Linked DNA regions of Homo sapiens. The protein of the gene in region 3 interacts with the protein of the main gene of each other region in a biochemical or structural test. Each region holds a gene or a part of one and is shown on either strand. Other genes may lie near its edges. The genes, in order: FARSA, FBXL12 and ECSIT.

Region 1 (7,109 bases), 1.4 Mb from region 3:
GCTGAACTTCGGTCCACCAAGCACTGGGAGCTTACTGCGGAGGGCGAGGAGATTGCCCGGGAGGGCAGCCATGAGGCCCGTGTGTTTCGAAGCATTCCCCCAGAGGGCCTGGCCCAGAGCGAGCTTATGGTAGGAGCTGCGGGGTGAATGGGGAGTGAGTGATGGGATGAAGGTGGCCCTCGTGCCCCACTCACTGCAGCCTCTCTTTTCCAGCGACTGCCCAGTGGCAAAGTGGGCTTCAGCAAGGCCATGTCCAACAAGTGGATTCGGGTGGACAAGAGTGCGGCTGACGGGCCCCGGGTGTTCCGAGTGGTGCGTTCCTGCGGGCTGGTCAGGGGGCAGGTGGACGGGCACATGGGCCCCTGGCCCTCATACCCCTCACACTCCTTATCCTGGCAGGTGGACAGCATGGAGGATGAGGTGCAGCGGCGGCTCCAGCTGGTCCGGGGGGGACAGGCTGAGAAGCTGGGGGAGAAGGAGAGGAGCGAGCTGAGGAAGAGGAAGCTGTTGGCTGAAGTGTGAGTGGGTGCCCCCTGCAGGCTCAGGCCCCCACCACCTGCGAAGCATGGTGGAGGCATGGTGGGAGGGAGACATCTTGCCCACACCAAGCACAGGTGTGGCCAGTTTCCTCCCAGCTCGCTTAATGCCATAGTTGTCAAGCCTACGTGCCTTGGGGTCTTTGCCCATGAGGACCCTTCTGCTGAGAACTGTTTTCCCTCTGATCTTCAAGATAGGCTCCTCATCAAGTCTCTCTCCTGTGTCCCCTTAAAGAGGCCACCCTGACAGCCCTCCTCTCCCCTTGAGTTCCATGAAGCCCATCGCCCCTAGTCTTCATCTTTGGTGCTTGTTCATTTCTTTCACTGTCCTTAGTGTGGTCCAAAGTTTAATGAACACACACCAGACAGGCCTCTGGAACCTAGATGGGCTAGGGGCCGTCCTCTCACAGGACAAATGTCCCCTTTGAGCAGACACAGAGTGGCAGAGAGAAGAGACTAGAGCTGGGATGCCTAACTGAAGTTCGGGCTCTGTCACTTAACTAGTTTTATGACCTTGGCCAAGTCACCTGGCCTTTGCTGGTCTCCGTTTCCTTATCTATAAAATAGCCTGGGCCAAGTGTGTGGCTCACGTGTGTAATCCCAGCTACTCAGGAGGCTGAAGTGTTAGGATCACTTGAATCCATGAATTCAAGGCCAGCCTGGGCAACATAGAGAGACCCCCATCTCAAAGAAAAAGGGGCCAGGCACGATGGCTCATGCCTGTAATCCCAGCACTTTGGGAGGCCGAGGCGGGCAAATCACCTGAGGTCAGGAGTTCGAGACCAGCCTGGCCAACATGGTGAAACCTCGTCTTTACTGAAAATACAAAACTTAGCCGGGTGTGGTGGCGGGTGCCTGTAATCCCAGCTACTCTGGAGGCTGAGGCAGGAGAATCGCTTGAATCTGGGAGGTGGAGGATGCAGTGAGCTGAGACCGTGCCATTGCACTCTAGCCTAGGCAACAAGAGCAAAACTCTGTCTCAAAAAAGGAAAACAAACAAACAAATAAAAAAAACTGCCCTCTTTCCGGGGCTTGTGGGGAGACTTTTGCAGAACAGAGCCTGGCACAGAATAAATCTGCTAGACTTTCCCTAGTATCATCACTCAGTCGTGTACTTAGCACCTTGAACAGACCCTGGCACACATTAGGTTCTCAGTAAGTGTTGAATGAATCAGTGAGTGAATACAGGGAGATACAGCATGGTCACATAGGAGGATTTCAGGTAGTGATAAATGTCAGGATGGAAATAAAGCAGAGTGACTTGGTAGGTAGCATGGGGATCCTCATCAGACGGGAGATCAAGGAAGTCCTCTAGGAGGAGATGGCAGTGGCGTCCCCTTCCTTCCCCTGGCCACAGGACTCTGAAGACCTACTGGGTGAGCAAAGGCAGTGCCTTTAGTACCAGCATCTCCAAGCAAGAGACAGAGCTGAGCCCAGAGATGATCTCCAGGTAGCAGGCAACCCCAGGGTCAGGGCAGGTGGGAGCTGGGGCAGGGGGCAGGGGCGGGCAGCCCTTACCAGGCCCTTGCATCCTCCCCCAGTGGCTCTTGGCGGGACCGGCCCTTCAAGCCCTACAACTTCTTGGCCCACGGTGTCCTCCCCGACAGCGGCCACCTTCACCCGCTGCTCAAGGTCCGCTCCCAGTTCCGACAGATCTTCCTGGAGATGGGGTGAGCACAGGGCTGGGGGCGGTGCCTGGTGCTTCTGCTGGGTACAGGCAGGGCAGTCAGGCTGTGTCTCCCACCAGGTTCACCGAGATGCCGACTGATAACTTCATTGAGAGCTCCTTCTGGAACTTTGACGCCCTCTTCCAGCCCCAGCAGCACCCAGCCCGTGACCAGCACGACACCTTCTTCCTTCGAGGTGGGTCAGCCCCTAGGGCCTCCCTGAGACATGAGAGACACCAGGCCACGGCGGAGCCTTTACAGGATGGGCATCCCATTTGATCAAATTAGGTCTAGAACTGGGCATGGTGGTGTGCACCTGTAGTCCGGCTATTTGGGAGGCCAAGGCAGGAGGATTGCATGAGCCCAGGAGTTCAAATCCAGCTCAGGCAACATAGGGAAGAATCTACCTCTAAAAAAATTAATTGAGTTAAATTAAAGTCCATCCTTGTTGGATGTGTCAAGCTCTGTTCTCATTATGCCACCTGCAGTCTTTTTTTTTTTTTTTTTTTTTTTTGAGACAGGGTCTCACTCTGTCGCCCAAGCTGGAGTGTGCAGTGGCATGATCTTGGCTCGCTGCAAACTTTGCCTCCCAGGTTCAAGCGATTCTCCTGCCTCAGCCTCCCGAGTAGCTGGGATTACAGGTGCATACCACCATGCCCAGCTAATTTTTGTATTTTTAGTAGAGATGGAGTTTTGCCATGTTGGCCAGGGTGGTCTCAAACTCCAGTCTGCCTCGGCCTCCCAAAGTGCTGGGATTACAGGCGTGAGCCACCGCACCTGGCTTTTTTTTTTTTTTTTTTTTTTTTTTGAGACAGTCTCATTCTGTCGCCCAAGCTAGAGTGCAGTGGCACGATCTCAGCTCACTGCAATTTCCACCTCCTGGGTTCAAGCGATTCTCCTGCCTCAGCCTCCTGAGTAGCTGGGATTACAGGCACCCGCCACCACGCTCGGCTAATTTTTGTGTTTTTAATAGAGATGGGGTTTGCCATGTTGGCCAGGCTGGTCTGGAACTCCTGACCTCAAGTGATACTCCCGCCTCAGCCTCCCAAAGTGCTAGGATTACAGGCGTGAGCACCACGCCTAGCCCAAAATTAATGAATTTTTGTTTTGTTTTGTTCTCACTATGTTGCCCAGGCTGGTCTCAAACTCCTGATCTCAAACAGTTTTGCCTCAGCCTCCCAAAGTGCTGGGATTACAGGCATGAGCCCCCACACCCTGCCTGCCCCCATGTCTTCTTTGGGCATTCCAGGCCGTGCACACCTCAGGGCCTTTGCTTATGTTCCGTCTTTAGCCAAGAGCTGTTTTCTCCCAGATCTTCAAGGCAGGCTGCAGCCTCAAATCTCTGCTCACGTGTCACCAGAGACAGGCCAGCCTAACACTCCCGGGCTCACCCCGAGTTCTACAGAAGCCCTTCTCCCCTAGTGTTCATTCTTCTGTCCCATTTCTTTCTTTCATTGCCCTTAGCACTGTCTGAAATGGAATGACTTCCCACAATGGGGTGGCCTTCCTGACCAAGAGGGCAGTTGAGGTCATTGGGTGCCGGCTTACCTGGCCAGAGGAGCAACATCATTCTTGTCATTATTGTCATAGCACCCAAAACTTACTAAGCACTCATCACATACTAGCCACTATTCTAATCTTCCTGCCAACTACTGGAAGCAGTACTGTTACCCCTTTTTACAAAGAAGGAAACTTGGCCAGCCTCAGTGGGTATAATCCCACTGTTTGGGAGGGCAAGGGAGGAGGATCGCTTGAGCCCAGGAGTTTGAGAACAGCCTAAGCAACATAGAAAGACCCATCTGTACAAATAAAATTAGCTGGGCATAGTAGTGCACGCCTGTAGTTGCAGCTACTCGGGAGGCTGAGGTGAAGGATTGCTTGAGCCTGGGAGTTTGAGGCTGCAGTGAGCTATGATTGCATCACTGCACTGCAGGCCAAGCAACAGAGCAAGACTTTGTCTCTTTAGGCCGGGCGCGGTGGCTCACGCCTGTAATCCCAGCACTTTGGGAGGCTGAGACGGGCGGATCGCGAGGTCAGGAGATCAAGACCATCCTGGATAACACAGTGAAACCCCGTCTCTACCAAAAATACAAAAACAATTAGCCAGGCATAGTGGCGGGCGCCTGTAGTCCCAGCTACTCGGGAGGCTGAGGCAGGAGAATGGTGTGAACCCTGGAGGCGGAGCTGGCAGTTAGCCGAGATCATGCCACTGCACTCCAGCCTGGGTGACTGAGCGAGACTCCGTCTAAAAAAAAAAAAAATTTTGTCCCTTTAAAAAAAAAAAATAGGCCGGGCGCGGTGGCTCACGCCTGTAATTCCAGCACTTTGGGAGGCCACGGTGGGTGGATCGAGACCATCCTGGCCAACATGGTGAAATCCCATCTCTACTAAAAATACAAAAATTAGCTGGGCATGGTGGCGTGTGCCTGTAGTCCCATCTATTCAGGAGGCTGAGGCAGGAGAATCACTCGAACCTGGGAGGCAGAGGTTGCAGTGAGCCGAGATCGCGCCACTGCACTCCAGCCTGGGCGACAGAGCGAGACTCCGTCTCAAAAAAAAAGAAAAAATAAAAAGGTCGGGCGCGGTGGCATGATCCCAGCACTTTGGGAGGCCCAGGCAGGCGGATCACTTGAAGTCAGGAGTTCGAGACCAGCCTGGCCAACATGGTGAAACCCCACGTCTACCAAATATAAAAAATTAGCTGTGTGTGGTGGTGCACTTCTGTAATCCCAGCTACTTGGGAGGCTGAGGCAGGAGAATTGCTTGAACCTGGGAGGAGGAGGTTGCAGTGAGCCAAGATCATGCCACTGCACTCCAGCCTGGGCAACAGAGCAAGACTCCATCTCAAAATACATACATACATACGTACATACATAAATAAAGCCCAGGTGCAGTGGCTCATGCCTGTAATCCCAACACTGGGAGGCCGAGGTGGGTGGATCACCTGAGATCAGGAGTTCGAGACCACCCTGACCAACATGGCGAAACCCCATCTCTACTAAAAATACAAAAATTTCCCGGGTGTGGTGGCAGGCACCTGTAATCCCAGCTACTTGGGAGGCTGAATCAGGAGAATTGCTTGAACTTGGGAGGTGGAGGTTGCAGTGAGCCAAGATTGAGCCATTGTACTTCAGCTGGGCCAACTGAACAAGACTCTGTCTCAAAAAAAAAGAACCCAAAAAAGCCACACACAAATGAGAAAACTGAGGCACGAGAATCACTTGAACCTGGGAGGCAGAGGTTGCAGTAAGCCCAGATTGCACCACCGCACTCCAGCCTGGACAACAGTGAGACCCTGTCTGAAAAAAAAAAAGGGGTGGGAAATGCTCGTTGACTGACCTGATGTTGCTCTGTCCTGCCCAGATCCAGCGGAGGCCCTGCAGCTCCCAATGGACTATGTCCAGCGGGTCAAGCGGACCCACTCTCAGGGCGGCTACGGCTCACAGGGGTGAGGCAGGACTTACCTGGTATGGAAGGGAAGGAGGCTGGGGACCCCTGGGCCATTGCATGGACTTCCCACCTTCCCTCCTGAAGGTACAAGTATAACTGGAAGCTGGACGAGGCCCGGAAAAACCTACTGCGAACCCACACCACATCAGCCAGCGCCCGTGCGCTCTACCGCCTTGCCCAGAAGGTGCGGTTGGCCCAGGCGGGGGCCCCAGTGGGGAGAGGGTGCTGTCAAAGGGACCTTCTGACCCATACCTGGGCCTGGCTCGGTTGTCACCCCTAGAAGCCCTTCACTCCGGTCAAGTACTTCTCCATCGACCGCGTATTCCGGAATGAGACCCTGGACGCCACGCACCTGGCTGAGTTCCACCAGATCGAGGGCGTGGTGGCGGATCATGGTCTCACCTTGGGCCACCTCATGGGCGTTCTGCGGGAGTTCTTCACCAAGCTGGGTGAGCAGGGGGGCAGGGGTGGGCCATGGTGGTGAGGCAGCGGGCAGGTGTGTTGATCACCAGCATTATCCTCCAAACCCCTGCTCTCCTGCCCGCCCCCCACTTCCTGCAGGTATCACGCAACTCCGCTTCAAGCCAGCCTACAACCCATACACAGAGCCCAGCATGGAGGTGTTCAGCTACCACCAAGGTCAGGGTAGGCCCTGGTACTGGGGTGGGAGGGAGGTCTCAGGCTACTATGGTTTGGCCTGGGTCCCCCCATTGCCATGCCTGTACCCCACCTCCCAAGCTCACCACCTAGACCCAGAACCTGTACCAGCAGTGCCCAGAAACTCAACACGCACTGCCCGTCTTTTCTGTCCTGCCTCTGCAGGCCTGAAGAAGTGGGTGGAGGTCGGAAACTCGGGGGTCTTCCGTCCAGAGATGCTGCTGCCCATGGGGCTTCCCGAGAACGTGTCGGTCATTGCCTGGGGCCTCTCCCTGGAGCGGTAAGTGCCCAAGTGGAAACTCGGGGTGTCCAGCTGCCTCAAATAACTCTCCAGGTATAGGGGCCTGCGTGGTTTCAGCACCACCCATTCATTCATCCAATGGACAAAACTTTCATCGTGAGTACAAACTGAATGCTCAGCCCCGTGCTGTGAACATGACAGCTTATGTCCCTCCCTCTGAATCTGGGGTCCCAGTGGAGCGAGAAGGATGATAACTAGCAAGACCAACAAGTACATCAGGCCAGGCGTGGTAGCTCATGCCTGTCATCCCAGTGCTGTGGGAGGCCAAGGCAGGAGGATCGCCTGAGCCAGGAGTTTGAGATCAGCCTGGGCAATAGAGCAAGTCTCCGCCTCTACAAAGAATAAAAACAGGCCAGGCGTGGTGGCACATGCCTGTAATCCAAGCACTGTGGGTGGCTGAAGCAGGTGCATCACCTGAGGACAGGAGTTCGAGGCCAGCCTGGCCAACATGGCGAAACCTCATCTCTACTAAAAATATAAAAATTAGCCTGGCGTGGT
Region 2 (6,419 bases), 1.7 Mb from region 3:
TCTCAGGCCTGGAAGCCCAGGAGGAAAAAGTGGTTTCCTGGGGGCCCAGGGTCCCTGTGCTATGTTCACCCTGGGACTTGGTGTCCTGTGCCCTAGCTGCTCCAGCTGTAGCTGAAAGGGGCCAACGTATAACTCGGGCTGTGGCTTCAGAGGGTGGAAGCCCCAAGTCTTGGCAGCTTCCACATGGTCTTGAGCCTGCTGGTGCACAGAAGCCAAGAACTGAGGTTCAGGGCCAGGCACAGTGGCTCACGCCTATAATCCCAGCACTTTGGGAGGCCAAGGCAGGCGGATCACTTGAGGTCAGGAGTTCAAGACCAGCCTGGCCAACATGGTGAAACCCCATCTCTACTAAAAATACAACAAATGCGTGGTGGCGCATGCTTGTAATCCCAGCTACTCGGGAGGCTGAGGCAGGAGAATCGCTTGAACCCGGGAGGCAAAGGTTGCAGTGACTCAAGATCGTGCCATTGCATTCCAGCCTGGGTGACAAGAGCGAAACTCCATCTCAAAAAAAAAAAAAAAGAATTGAAGTTTAGGAACCTCTGCCTAGATTTCAGAAGATGTGTGGAAATGCCTGGATGTCCAGGCAAAAGTTTGCTACAGGGGTGGGGCCCTCATGGAGAACCTCTGCTAGGGCAGTGTGGAAGGGAAATGTGGGGTCAGAGCCCCCACACAGAGTCCCTATTGGGTCACTGCCTAGTGGAGCTGTGAGAAGAGGGCCACTGTTCTCCAGACTCCAGAATGGTAGATCCACCCACAGCTTGCACCATGCACCTGGAAAAGCTTCAGACACTCAACACCAGCCTGTGAAAGCAGCTGGGAGGGAGGCTGTACCCTGTAAAGCCACAAGGGGCGGAGCTGGCCAAGACCATGGGAACCCACCTCTTGCATCAGTGTGACCTGGTTGTGAGACCTGGAATCAAAGGAGATAATTTTGGAGCTTTAAAATTTGACTGCCCCACTGGATTTCAGACTTGCATGGGCCCTGTAACCCCTTTGTTTTGGCCAATTTCTCCCATTTGGAATGGCTGCATTTACCCAATACCTGTACTCACATTGTATCTAGGAAGTAACTAGCTAGCTTTTGATTTTATAGGCTCATAGGTGGAAGGGACTTGCCTTGTCTCAGATGAGACTTTGGACTGTGGACTTTTGGGTTAATGCTGAAATGAGTTAAGACTTTGGAAGACTGTTGGGAAGCCATGATTGGTTGTGAAATGTGAAGACATGAGACTTGGAGGGGCCGGGGTGGAATGATATAGTTTGGCTGTGTCCCCACCCAAATCTCAACTTGAATTGTATTTCCCAGAATTCCCATGTGTTGTGAGAGGGACCCAGGGGAAATAATTGAATCTTGGGGGCTGGTCTTTCCCATGCTATTCTCGTGATAGTGAATAAATCTCAAGAGATCTGATGGGTTTATCAGGGGTTTCCATTTTTGCTTTGTTCTCGTTTTCTTAATTTTTTTTTTTTTTTTTTTTTTGAGATGGAGTCTTGCTCTGTTGCCAGGCTGGAGTGCAGTGGTATGATCTCAGCTCACTGCAACCTCTGCCTCCTGGGTTCAAGTGATTCCCCTGCCTCAGCCTCCTGAGAAGCTGGGACTACAGGCACGTGCCACCACACTGAGCTAATTTTTTGTATTTTTTAAATTAATTTATTTATTTTTCTTTGAGTCGGAGTCTTGTTCTGCCACCAGGCTGGAGTGCAGTGGTGCGATCTCAGTTCACTGGAACCTCTGCCTCCCGTGTTCAAGCGATTCTCCTACCTCAGCCTCCTTAGTAGCTGGGACTACAGGCATGCACCACCACACTCGGCTAATTTTTTTTTGTATTTTAGTAGAAACGGGGTTTTGTCATGTTGGCCAGGATGGTCTCAATCTCCTGACCTCGTGATCCGCCCGCATCGGCCTTCCAAAGTGCTGGGATTATGGGCATGAGCCACTGCGCCCGGGCTTCTTTCTCATTTTCTCTTGCTGCCGCCATGTAAGAAGTGCCTTTCACCTCCTGCCATGATTTTGAGGCCTCCCCAGCCATGTGGAACTGTAAGTCCAATTAAACCTCTTTTTCTTCCCAGTCTCAGGTATGTTTTTATCAGCAGCATGAAAATAGACTAATACAGTTTGTATTACATGGGTATATATATGCATGTATAAAAGGCAAATGTAAGCATGCTTTCTGAAGGATTGATGATAAGCTATTTTCTTCAGTGAATGGAAGAGTTTGATGTAGAAACACCTTTTTGGCCGGGTGCAGTGGCTCATGCCTGTAATCCCAGCACTTTGGGAGGCCGAGGTGGACAGATCACTTGAGGTCGGGTGTTTGAGACCAGCCTGACCTACATGGAGAAACCCTGTCTCTACTAAAAATACAAAATTAAGGCCAGGCGCGTGGCTCATGCCTGTAATCCCAGCACCTTGGGAGGCCAAGGTGGTTGGATCACGAGGTCAGGAGATTGAGACCATCCTGGCTAACATGGTGAAACCGCGTCTCTACTAAAAATACAAAAAAAACATAGCCGGGCATGGTGGCATACGCCTGTAGTACCAGCTACTTGGGAGGCTGAAGCAGGAGAATTGCTTGAACCTGGGAGGTGGAGATTGCAGTGAGCCGAGATTGCGCTACTGCACTCCAGCCTGGGCAACAGAGCGAGACTCTGTCTCAAAAAAAAAAAAAAAAATTAGCCGGGCATGGTGGCACATGCCTGTAATCCCAGCTACTCAGGAGGCTAAGGCACGAGAATCGCTTGAACCCAGGAGGCGGAGGTTGCGGTGACTGAGATCGTGCCATTGCACTCCAGCCTGGGCAACAAGCAAAACTCCGTCTCAAAAAAAAAGAAAAGAAAAGAAACACCTTTGTAAGCACACATAAAGAATATGTTATTAGACAATTTTCCTTTTTCCATTAGGCCCTATGATGCCAAGTAGAGAAATCCAGCAATAAAAGGCAGATGTAAGCATGCTAACTTTTTCTTTTTAAGATAAACTGTACTTAGAATGAAATGCCCAGTGCTATCAATTATATATATTTTTTATTTTCTACTAAGTCTAACTTCCCAGGGTTGATTTTTGCAGCTTCCACTCTACCAGGCTTTGATATATTTTTTTTTTTGACATGGAGTTTCGCTCTTGTTGCCCAGGCTGGTGCAACGGCACGATCTTGGCTCATCGCAGCCTCTGCTTCCCAGGTTCAAGTGATTCTCCTGCCTCAGCCTCCCAAGTAGCTGGGATTACAGGCGTGCACCACCACACCTGGCTAATTTTGTATTTTTAGTAGAGACGGGGTTTCTCCATGTTGGTCAGGCTGGTCTTGAACTCCTGACCTCAGGTGATCTGCCCGCCTTGGCCTCCCAAAGTGCTGGGATTACAGGTGTGAGCCACCGTGCCCAGCCTTTTCATTTGTTGTTTTTTTTTTTTTTTTTTTAACATAGACCTAATTTACTCTGGGTAGTTTTCGGCTTTTAAAATTTTATTCTGTGTTGCTTATTTCTACTGGAGGTGATCATTAAGAAAGGGGTAAAATATCAATGGGTTGCTCTGCTCTTTTTCTTAGTCCAGAAAAAACGGTAAAAATTTATTGCTAAAGATAGATTCTGTTAGTATCTTTTTTTCCCCTACCAGATTTATCTTTTTTTTTTTTTTTTTTTTTTTTTGAGACAGAGTCTCACTCTATCGCCCAGGCTGGAGTGCAGTGGTGCGATATCGACTCACTGCAACCTTTGTCTCCTGGGTTCAAGTGATTCTCTTGCCTCAGCCTCTTGAGTAGCTGGGATTACAGGTGCTTGCCACCACGCCCAGCTAATTTTTGTATTTTTAGTAGAAACATGGTTTCACCATGTTGGCCAGGCTGGTATTAAACTCCTGACCTCAAATGATCCATCCACCTCAGCCTCCCAAAGTGCTGGGATTACAGGCATGAGCCACTGTGCCCAGCCCCTACCAGATTTATTCTAAGTGGCCGAGTGCAGTGGCTCACGACTGTAGACCCAGCACTTTGAGGGGCTGAGATGGGAGGATTGCTTGAATCCAGGAGTTGGAGACCAGCCTGGGCAACATAGCAAGACCTCATCTCTACTAAAAATCACAAAAATTAGCTGGGCATGTGTCAGAAGTCCCAGCCACTTGGGAAGCTGAAGTGGGAGAATCACTTGAGCCTAGGAGGTCCAGGCTGCAGTGAGCCATTATCTCACCACTGCACTGTAGACTGGGTGACAGAGCAAGAACCTGTCTCAGAAAAAAAAAAAAAAAAAAAGATTTGTTCAAAGCCCTAGCAGGCAAGATGGTGCACTCAAACCATCTGGTTGAACCTGGGGAGGTTGAACCTGGGGAGGAGACTGGCTAGGCAAGGGCAGAAGCCCAGCAGGGCACCAGAATCCCCCACCCCGGGGTTGTGTGTCTCCAGCCCAGCAGGGGCCTTGGAAGCTCCATACCTCTCACTCTGTCACCCCAATCTCTGGCTCTTACAGATGCGACCTAAAGTCATGTGGCACCTCCTTCGAAGGTACATGGCATCCCGGCTCCATTCCCTGCGGATGGGTGGCTACCTGTTCTCTGGCTCCCAGGCCCCCCAGTTGTCCCCTGCTCTGTTGAGAGCCCTGGGCCAGAAGTGCCCCAACCTGAAGCGCCTCTGCCTGCACGTGGCCGACCTGAGCATGGTGCCCATCACCAGCCTGCCCAGCACCTTGAGGACCCTGGAGCTGCACAGCTGCGAGATCTCCATGGCCTGGCTCCACAAGCAGCAGGACCCCACCGTGCTGCCCCTGCTTGAATGCATCGTGCTGGACCGCGTCCCCGCCTTCCGTGACGAGCACCTGCAGGGCCTGACGCGCTTCCGGGCCTTGCGCTCGCTGGTGCTGGGTGGTACCTACCGTGTGACCGAGACAGGGCTGGATGCTGGCCTGCAGGAGCTCAGCTATCTGCAGAGGCTTGAGGTGCTGGGCTGCACCCTGTCTGCCGACAGCACCCTGCTGGCCATCAGCCGCCACCTCCGAGATGTGCGCAAGATCCGGCTGACCGTGAGGGGCCTCTCTGCCCCTGGCCTGGCTGTGCTGGAGGGAATGCCGGCCCTGGAGAGTCTGTGCCTGCAGGGTCCCCTCGTCACCCCAGAAATGCCCTCCCCCACTGAAATCCTCTCCTCCTGCCTCACTATGCCCAAGCTCAGAGTCCTTGAGCTGCAGGGGCTGGGGTGGGAGGGTCAGGAGGCGGAGAAGATCCTGTGTAAGGGGCTGCCCCACTGTATGGTCATCGTCAGGGCTTGCCCCAAAGAGTCTATGGACTGGTGGATGTAACTACTCCACCTGCCCTTGGGACCCATCCCAGTTTTCATCATTGAGCCCCAGACCCTCTGAGCAGCACCTTGAAGAGGGCAGATAATCAGACTTGAGGAAACTGAAAGCCCCAGGTTGAGAGAACAGAGGCCTAGGGACCTCCAGACCATTGGAATCACTGTTTGCCAGCTGTGTGGCCTTGGTCATATCATCAGCCTCTGGGAAGCCTAGTTCCCACATCTGGAAATAAGGATGATCATAGCTACCTCACGGTTACATTGCAAAGCCTTACTCTAAAAGCTCCCAGCCTCCAGAGGCTCTCAATGAAGAGTCACCTTCATGGTCGTCTTCAGGAACAGGACGGATGAAGAAGGGGTGGGGTTAAGACTCAGGGGCACCTGAGGGTCTGAGCCCCCTTATGAGTACCCAAGAAGGACTGTCTATGCATGCACACCCACAAGCCTATACACCATTTATATACCTACACGCACGCAAGAGACGCGGAGAGATAGGCGATGCAGACTCGCGATTCAATGATCGATATGCTCATAAAAGTGCTCAATTATATTTTCTGTATTTTGTATGCTGTATTTTCCAAGACGTATATTATTTTACTATTAAAGAAAAAAATCATTTTTTTTTCCCGAGAAGTATTCAGTTTATTCATTCAACCAATCTTTCTTGAGCTTCTGCTATTTTGCAGGCACTGTTCTAGGTTCTGGGAAACTGGGCCACCACAGTGAACAAAACTGACAAGACCCTGCCCTCGTAGATCTCATAGAGGAGAAGACAGGACAACAAACAGGTAAGCCAGTCCATGCTTTAGTTTTTTTGTGTGGGGACAGAGTCTCACTCTGTCACCCAGGCTGGAGTGCAGTGGTGCGATCTTGGCTCACTGCAACCTCCGTCTCCCGGGTTCAAGTGATTCTCCTGCCTCAGCCTCCCAAGTAGCTGGGATTACAGGCACCCGCCACCACGCCCAGCTAATTTTTGTATCTTTAGTAGAGATGGGGTTTCACCATGTTGGTCAGGCTGGTCTCAAACTCCTGACCTCGTGATCTGCTCACCTCGGCCTCCCAAAGTGCTGGAATTACAGGTGTGAGCCACTGCGCTCGGCCACCATGTTGTAATTTTGGAGACTCTGAGCCAGTACACCA
Region 3 (6,815 bases):
ACACCACCACGCCCGGCTAATTTTTGTATTTCTTGTAGAAATGGGGTTCCACCATGTTGCCCAGGCTGGTCTCAAACTCGTGAGCTCAAGCGATCCACCCACCTTAGCCTCCCAAAGTACTGGGATTGCAAGCATGAGCCACCATGCCTGGCCCCCTCAGACCTTTGTTTGTTTGTTTTTTTTTTGAGATGGAGTCTCGCTCTGTCGCCAGGCTGGAGTGCTGTGGCGCCATCTCAGCTCACTGCAACTCTGACTCCCGGGTTCAAGCGATTCTCCTGCCTCAGCCTCCCAAGTAGCTGGGATTACAGGCATGCACCACCAGGCCCAGCTAATTTTTGTATTTTTAGTAGAAACGGGGTTTTACCATGTTGGCCAGGCTGGTCTTGATCTCCTGACCTCATGATCTGCCCACCTCGGCCTCCCAAAGTGCTGGGATTACACGCGTGAGCCACTGTGCCCGGCCAAGACCTTTTTTATAAGGGGACTAATCTCATTCATGAAGGCAGAGCCCTTATGATCTAAGTGCCTCTCCTCTCAAAGGCCTGACCTCTTAATCCTATTGCATTGTAGATAGATTGCAACATATGAATTTCAGGGGGCCATAAACATTCAGACCATAGCACCCTCCCATCCTTCTCCCAACACTTGCTACATTCTAGGCATCTTCCTTATTTTCTGTGCCAATTCTCACCACAGGGCTTTGCGTTCTCTGTTCCTTCTGCCAGGAACACTGTTCCCCATGGACTTCATGTTATTCCGGTCTCAGCTCCACTGTTCCTAATCAGGATGCCCTTCCTGACCTCCCTGGCCAAGGCACCACCCCTTCACCGTGCTTGGCTTGGTTCCTCATTCACCATGACTCAGTCTCCCTCCTGTCTCCCAAGGCTGAGCACAGGATTTGGTGCAAAGCTGACACTTGGCAGTGGTTTGTTGAATGACTGAGTGGAGTAACACCCTCAACTCAGTGTCCTGGGAGCCCCCACTCATGCCAGATCACACAAGGGATCCAAAGAGAGCCCCTCACAGCACTTGTCATGTGGTCCTGGACAGATAACAGTTTCCTTAAGAGCCAGTGGTTCTGAGATGGAGAAGCCCGGGGTGCTGTGGGAGCCGAGTGGGCAGGTGGGGCTTCCTGGGGGAGGTAAGGAGAGCAGAGGACGCTGGGCAGAGGGAGCAGTGTGTACCAGGAAATGCGGTGCAGTGAGTGGGGGCACCTGATTAAAGAGCTTGATCTCAAACCTCTTGGTTGGTGGGGAGAGCTATGCCGGGGGTGGGGGGGCAGAGATTTAAGAAGAAGGAATCGGGTTGGAATCATGTTTCTGGAAGAATCTGCAATTGGAAACGTGTCTCCTGGCAGCCGTGTGGATGCTGTTGGATGGGGAGAGGGGCTAGGGGACCAGGGTCGTGGGTCCAGGTGAGAGATGGCTTGAGACCAGCAGCAGAATGTGGGGGGGAGGGTTGTTTTTAGTTCATTTCTTCATTTTGCAAAGCAATGCACTAAAAAGCCAAACAGCATGTAAAAGCACACAGTGACGAGTCCTCTGCTTCTACCCAGGCCCCGTGCGCTGCCCCTGACGCCGCCCGTCTCCCTCCCCAGAGGTGACTATTTCCATGTCTCCTTCCAGAGAGGTTCTATACATTTGCAAGCAGATCTCTCTCTCTCTCTCTCTTTTTTTTTTTGGCATCTGTATCCTTTGTATTTAAATATCCTTCTCCCCCGTCTTATGGAGTAAAATACAGCCAGGCACAGTGGCTCATGCCTGTAATCCCAGCACTTTGGGAGGCTGAGGCAGATGGATTGCTTGAGCCCAGGAGTTCGAGACCAGCCTGGGCAACATGGCAAGACCCCATCTCTACCAAAAAAATACGAAAATTAGCTGGGAGTGGTGGTGCACACCTGTAGCCCCAGCTACTCAGGAGGCTGAGGCAGGAGGGTGGCTTGAACTCAGGAAGTCAAGTCTGTAGTGAGCCGTGATCATACCACTGCACACCAGACTGGGTGACAGAGCAAGATCCTGTCTGTTTAAAAAAAAGAAGTTCTTTAGCCAGGCATGGTGGCTTACGCCTGTAATCCCAGCACTTTGGAAGGCCGAGGCAGGCAGATCACCAGAGGTTGGGAGTTCGAGACCAGCCTGACCAACATGGAGAAACCTCGTCTCTACTAAAAATACAAAAAGAATTATCCAGGCATGGTGGTGCATGCCTGTAATCCTAGCTACTTGCGAGGGTGAGGCAGGAGAATCACTTGAACCCAGGAGGTGGAGGTTGCAGTGAGCCGAGATCGCGCCATTGCACTCCAGCCTGGGCAACAAGAGCGAAACTCCATCTCAAAAAAAAAAAAGTTTCTTTAGTAGCAGGGCATTATATACATGTACCTTGCCTTTTACAAATTTCATTTAATACAACTAGAAGTCACTGATCCATCTCAAATTTTTTTGTTGTTTTTTTGAGACAGAGCCTTGCTCTGTCGCCCATGCTGGAGTGCAGTGGCACAATCTCGGCTCACTACAACCTCCTCCTCCCAGGTTCAAGCAATTCTTGTGCCTCAGCCTCCCATGTAGCAGGGACTACAGGCGTGTGCCACCACGCCTGGCTAATTTTTGTATTTCTAGTAGAGACGGGGTTTCACCATGTTGGCCAGGCTGGTCTTGAACTCCTGGCCTCAAGTGATCCACCACCCTCGGCCTCCCAAAGTGCTGGGATTACAGGCATGAGCCACTGCGCCCGGCCTGCTCATCTCAATTTTTTTTAACTTGAAAGGATGAATGATATATGTTCTAATAGCTGTCCACTGTTTTGTTTCAAAAGCAAGTGCATTTTGTTAAAAAAAAAAAAACTTTGTCAGCGGGGCGCAGTGGCTTATGCCTGTAATCCCAATGCTTTGGGAGGCTGAGGCAGGTGGATCACCTGAGGTTGGGAGTTTGAGACCAGCCTGACCAACATGGAGAAACCCTGTCTCTACTAAAAATACAGACATTAGCCAGACGTGGTGGTGCATGCCTGTAATCCCAGCTACTCGGGAGGCTGAGGCAGCAGAATCACTTGAACCCAGGAGGTGGAGGTTGCGGTGAGCTGAGATCAAGCCCCATTGCACTCCAGCCTAGGCAACAAGAGCGAAACTCTGTCCCAAAAAAAAAAAAAAAAAATTGTCTAGTGTTTTTGAATTATGTTCAAGGTATAAAATTTTAAAAGATAAAAAAGGTATTCCTTCCCACCCTGTCCTCCACAGAGGTGAAAGCTATCATTTGCTTCTAGTGTCTCCTTCCTGGGATATTCTGTATATGTGAAGTTATTTTTCTTTTTTTAATTCACAAGCACTGAGCACTTATTATTTGCCAGGGACTGTGCTACATATTTTACAACCACCCAAAGTTAGGTTCATGCCCATAATCCTAGTGCTTTGGGAGGCCAAGGCAGGCGGATCACCTGAGGCCAGGAATTTGAGACCAGCCAGGCCAACATAGCAAAACCCTATCTCTACTAAAAATACAAAAAATTAGCCGGGCATGGTGGCAGGCGCCTGTAGTCCCAGCTACTTGGGAGGCCGACGCAGGAGAATCGCTTGAACCCAGGAGGCGGAGGCTATAGTGAGCCGAGATCATGCCATTGCACTCCAGCCTGGGTAATGAGCAAAACTCCATTTCAAAAATTAAAAAAATAAAATTAGCCAGGCATAGTGGTGTGCACCTGTAGACCCAGCTACTTGGGAGACTGAGGTAGGAAGATCACTTGAGCCCAGGAGTTCAAGGCTACAGTGAGCTATGATCATGCCACCATTCTCCAGCATGGATGACAGAGAGGGAGACCCCCATCCCTAAAAAAAAAAAAAAAATCGGAATTAAGTGCTGTTATCATCCCTATTGTGCATCTGGAGAAACTGAGGCACACAGGTACAGTGACTTGGCCAAGGTCACACAGCTTGTGACAGAGCCAGGATTTTGACAAAGGTGGGCTGGTTCTAGGGTAGTTCCCTCAGGGTGAGCATCCTAAAGATTGGTGGTTATTGCCAAATGGGACAGAGGGAGGAGGGGACAGGTTGGAGGGCCGTGTACCAGATCCAGGAGAGGTGTCCTGAATTCCCTGGTATCCCCCTTTCTGTTTCTCTGTCCCCAGTTCCTCTGTAGGGGATTGGGGGTTACAAGATTATATCCCTACTCTCCCTTGCAGGTTCCTTTGCCCAAAGACTCAACAGGTGCAGCAGATCCCCCCCAGCCCCACATCGTAGGTAAGTCCGAGAGCATGGGGGCAGCCAAGTCTCTAACCTTACCCAGGCCCTGCCAGGTTCTCGCTGGGCCTAGGCTGGGCTCCCTGGGCCTCTGGGCCGAGTCCCTTGCAGGGCACAGGGCATGTATGTCTCCACACCAGGAATCCAGAGTCCCGATCAGCAGGCCGCCCTGGCCCGCCACAATCCAGCCCGGCCTGTCTTTGTTGAGGGCCCCTTCTCCCTGTGGCTCCGCAACAAGTGTGTGTATTACCACATCCTCAGAGCTGACTTGCTGCCCCCGGAGGAGAGGGTGAGGGCTTAAAGCAAAGCATGTGTTGGGGCTGGGGAGTGGGCTGGCACTACCCTGAGGGTGCATGGGAGAGGCTGGAGGAGGGAGACCGAGAGAGCCCTGGCCTCTGACCCCGCCTGCACTCCCCACCTTGGAGTAGGAAGTGGAAGAGACGCCGGAGGAGTGGAACCTCTACTACCCGATGCAGCTGGACCTGGAGTATGTGAGGAGTGGCTGGGACAACTACGAGTTTGACATCAATGAAGGTAAAAACTGGGCCAGGTGCGGTGGCTCACATGTGTGCTCGTAATCCCAGCCCTCCTACAGGCTGAGGTGGGAGGATCACTTGAGCCCAGGAGTTGAGGTTGCAGTGAACTATTATAGAGCCACTGCACTCCAGCCTACATGATAGACCCTGTGTCAAAAAAAAAAAAAAAAAAGGCAAAAACCTGGACAGGCAGGACTTCCAAACATTCCAAACACCACCCAGGATGAGGGGCGGCCTCTGGGGTCAAGGGGTAGGCCCAGGCTGAGACGCAGTCCACTTACACCCTCGTCCTCCGGCCGCACACACTCATTTGCCCCAGGGGCTCCAGACCTGAGGTCACCCAGCCCTGTTGGCCCTTGTTCATTCCCTCCCTCCTACAACTCTGTGCTGGCTACTGGGTGTCACCAGGACAAACCTAGTCCCTCGAGTCAGCAAGGGAACAGGCAAATTACACTTTGGGGAGCTTAGGAGAGGAGCATGCCTTGAGTGGGGGGTCAGGAGGCCTTCCTGGCAGAATACAGAAAAACCAGGAGTCATCGCCCGGGTGAAGTGTGGAGTGGGCAGCCTAGGCAGCGGGGCTAGCTTGTGCAAAGGTTTGGAGGCACAAGAAAGTGGAAGGAAGCCGGGCACAGTGGCTCACGCCTGTAATCCCAGCACTCTGGGAGGCTGAGGCGGGTAGATCATTTGAGGTCAGGAATTCGAGACCAGCCTGGCCAACATGGTGAAACCCCATCTCTACTAAAAATTTAAAAATTAGCCCGGCGTGGTGCTGTGCACCTGTAATCCCAGCTCCTCGGGAGGCCGAGGCAGGAGAATCACTTGAACCTGGGAGGCGGATGTTGCAGTGAGCCGAGATCTCGCCACTGCACTCCAGCCTGGGTGACACAGCGAGACTCCGTCTCAAAAAAAAAAAAAAAAAAAAAAAGGAAGTGGAAGGGAGTGTAAAATACCTCAAAAAGGTGTAGGCATGGGTTAGCCGCTGCAGCCCCCACTGTGCAAACCTTAAGGGTGCATGTCTTCCAACAGTGGAGGAAGGCCCTGTCTTCGCCATGTGCATGGCGGGTGCTCATGACCAGGCGACGATGGCTAAGTGGATCCAGGGCCTGCAGGAGACCAACCCAACCCTGGCCCAGATCCCCGTGGTCTTCCGCCTCGCCGGGTCCACCCGGGAGCTCCAGACATCCTCTGCAGGGCTGGAGGAGCCGCCCCTGCCCGAGGACCACCAGGAAGAAGACGACAACCTGCAGCGACAGCAGCAGGGCCAGAGCTAGTCTGAGCCGGCGCGAGGGCACGGGCTGTGGCCCGAGGAGGCGGTGGACTGAAGGCATGAGATGCCCTTTGAGTGTACAGCAAATCAATGTTTTCCTGCTTGGGGCTCTCTTCCCTCATCTCTAGCAGTATGGCATCCCCTCCCCAGGATCTCGGGCTGCCAGCGATGGGCAGGCGAGACCCCTCCAGAATCTGCAGGCGCCTCTGGTTCTCCGAATTCAAATAAAAAGGGGCGGGAGCGCTGTTGGTTGTGCGCATGCGCAGTTTCCATTCTTGGTCTCCTTTTGGCGCCCTGGGGCAGCGAGAGACCGTGAGAAATTTCTCGGCGGCGCCGAAGATGCGCGCCACTTCCGGTCTGGCTCCTAACAACGGGGGAGGCTGGTAACCAGGGTGGGGGGGATGGCGGAGCGGGCGCTAGAGCCCGAGGCGGAGGCGGAGGCTGAGGCGGGCGCGGGCGGGGAGGCAGCAGCCGAGGAGGGCGCAGCGGGCCGAAAGGCGCGGGGCCGGCCGCGACTCACGGAGTCGGACCGGGCCCGGCGACGGCTCGAGTCCCGGAAGAAGTACGACGTGCGGCGCGTGTACCTGGGCGAGGCGCACGGGCCCTGGGTGGACCTGCGGCGCCGCAGCGGCTGGAGCGACGCCAAGCTCGCCGCCTACCTCATCTCTCTGGAGCGCGGCCAGCGGAGCGGCCGCCACGGGTGAGGGGGCCTGGCCCCGAGGGAGGGAGGGAGGAGACGCCCCCAGACCCCGCCGGGCTTTACCCCGCCCCCTCCGCTTCTAGGGCC

Evidence for each region.
Region 1: the proteins of ECSIT (region 3) and FARSA form a complex in vitro, tested with the Homo sapiens proteins (one study listed by BioGRID and IntAct).
Region 2: the proteins of ECSIT (region 3) and FBXL12 form a complex in vitro, tested with the Homo sapiens proteins (one study listed by BioGRID).

Annotation. Positions count from the first base shown.
Region 1 is NC_000019.10:12,923,632-12,930,740, reverse strand, and holds part of FARSA (phenylalanine--tRNA ligase alpha subunit), read left to right. Parts: coding exon 1-129; intron 130-194; exon of another isoform or gene 195-213; coding exon 214-312; intron 313-399; coding exon 400-518; intron 519-1,893; coding exon 1,894-1,986; intron 1,987-2,077; coding exon 2,078-2,206; intron 2,207-2,283; coding exon 2,284-2,399; intron 2,400-5,566; coding exon 5,567-5,651; intron 5,652-5,737; coding exon 5,738-5,837; intron 5,838-5,933; coding exon 5,934-6,102; intron 6,103-6,214; coding exon 6,215-6,292; intron 6,293-6,475; coding exon 6,476-6,590; intron 6,591-7,109.
Region 2 is NC_000019.10:9,809,760-9,816,178, reverse strand, and holds the end of FBXL12 (F-box/LRR-repeat protein 12), read left to right. Parts: exon of another isoform or gene 1-2,008; coding exon of another isoform or gene 2,009-2,041; intron 2,042-2,904; exon of another isoform or gene 2,905-2,948; intron 2,949-4,461; coding exon 4,462-5,283; 3' UTR 5,284-5,909; downstream 5,910-6,419. UniProt on the Homo sapiens protein: Substrate-recognition component of the SCF (SKP1-CUL1-F-box protein)-type E3 ubiquitin ligase complex.
Region 3 is NC_000019.10:11,505,401-11,512,215, reverse strand, and holds the end of ECSIT (evolutionarily conserved signaling intermediate in Toll pathway, mitochondrial isoform 1 precursor), read left to right. Parts: intron 1-4,167; coding exon 4,168-4,225; intron 4,226-4,365; coding exon 4,366-4,514; intron 4,515-4,653; coding exon 4,654-4,759; intron 4,760-5,787; coding exon 5,788-6,032; 3' UTR 6,033-6,287; downstream 6,288-6,815. Other genes in the region: ZNF653 (zinc finger protein 653), read left to right, coding at 6,430-6,728.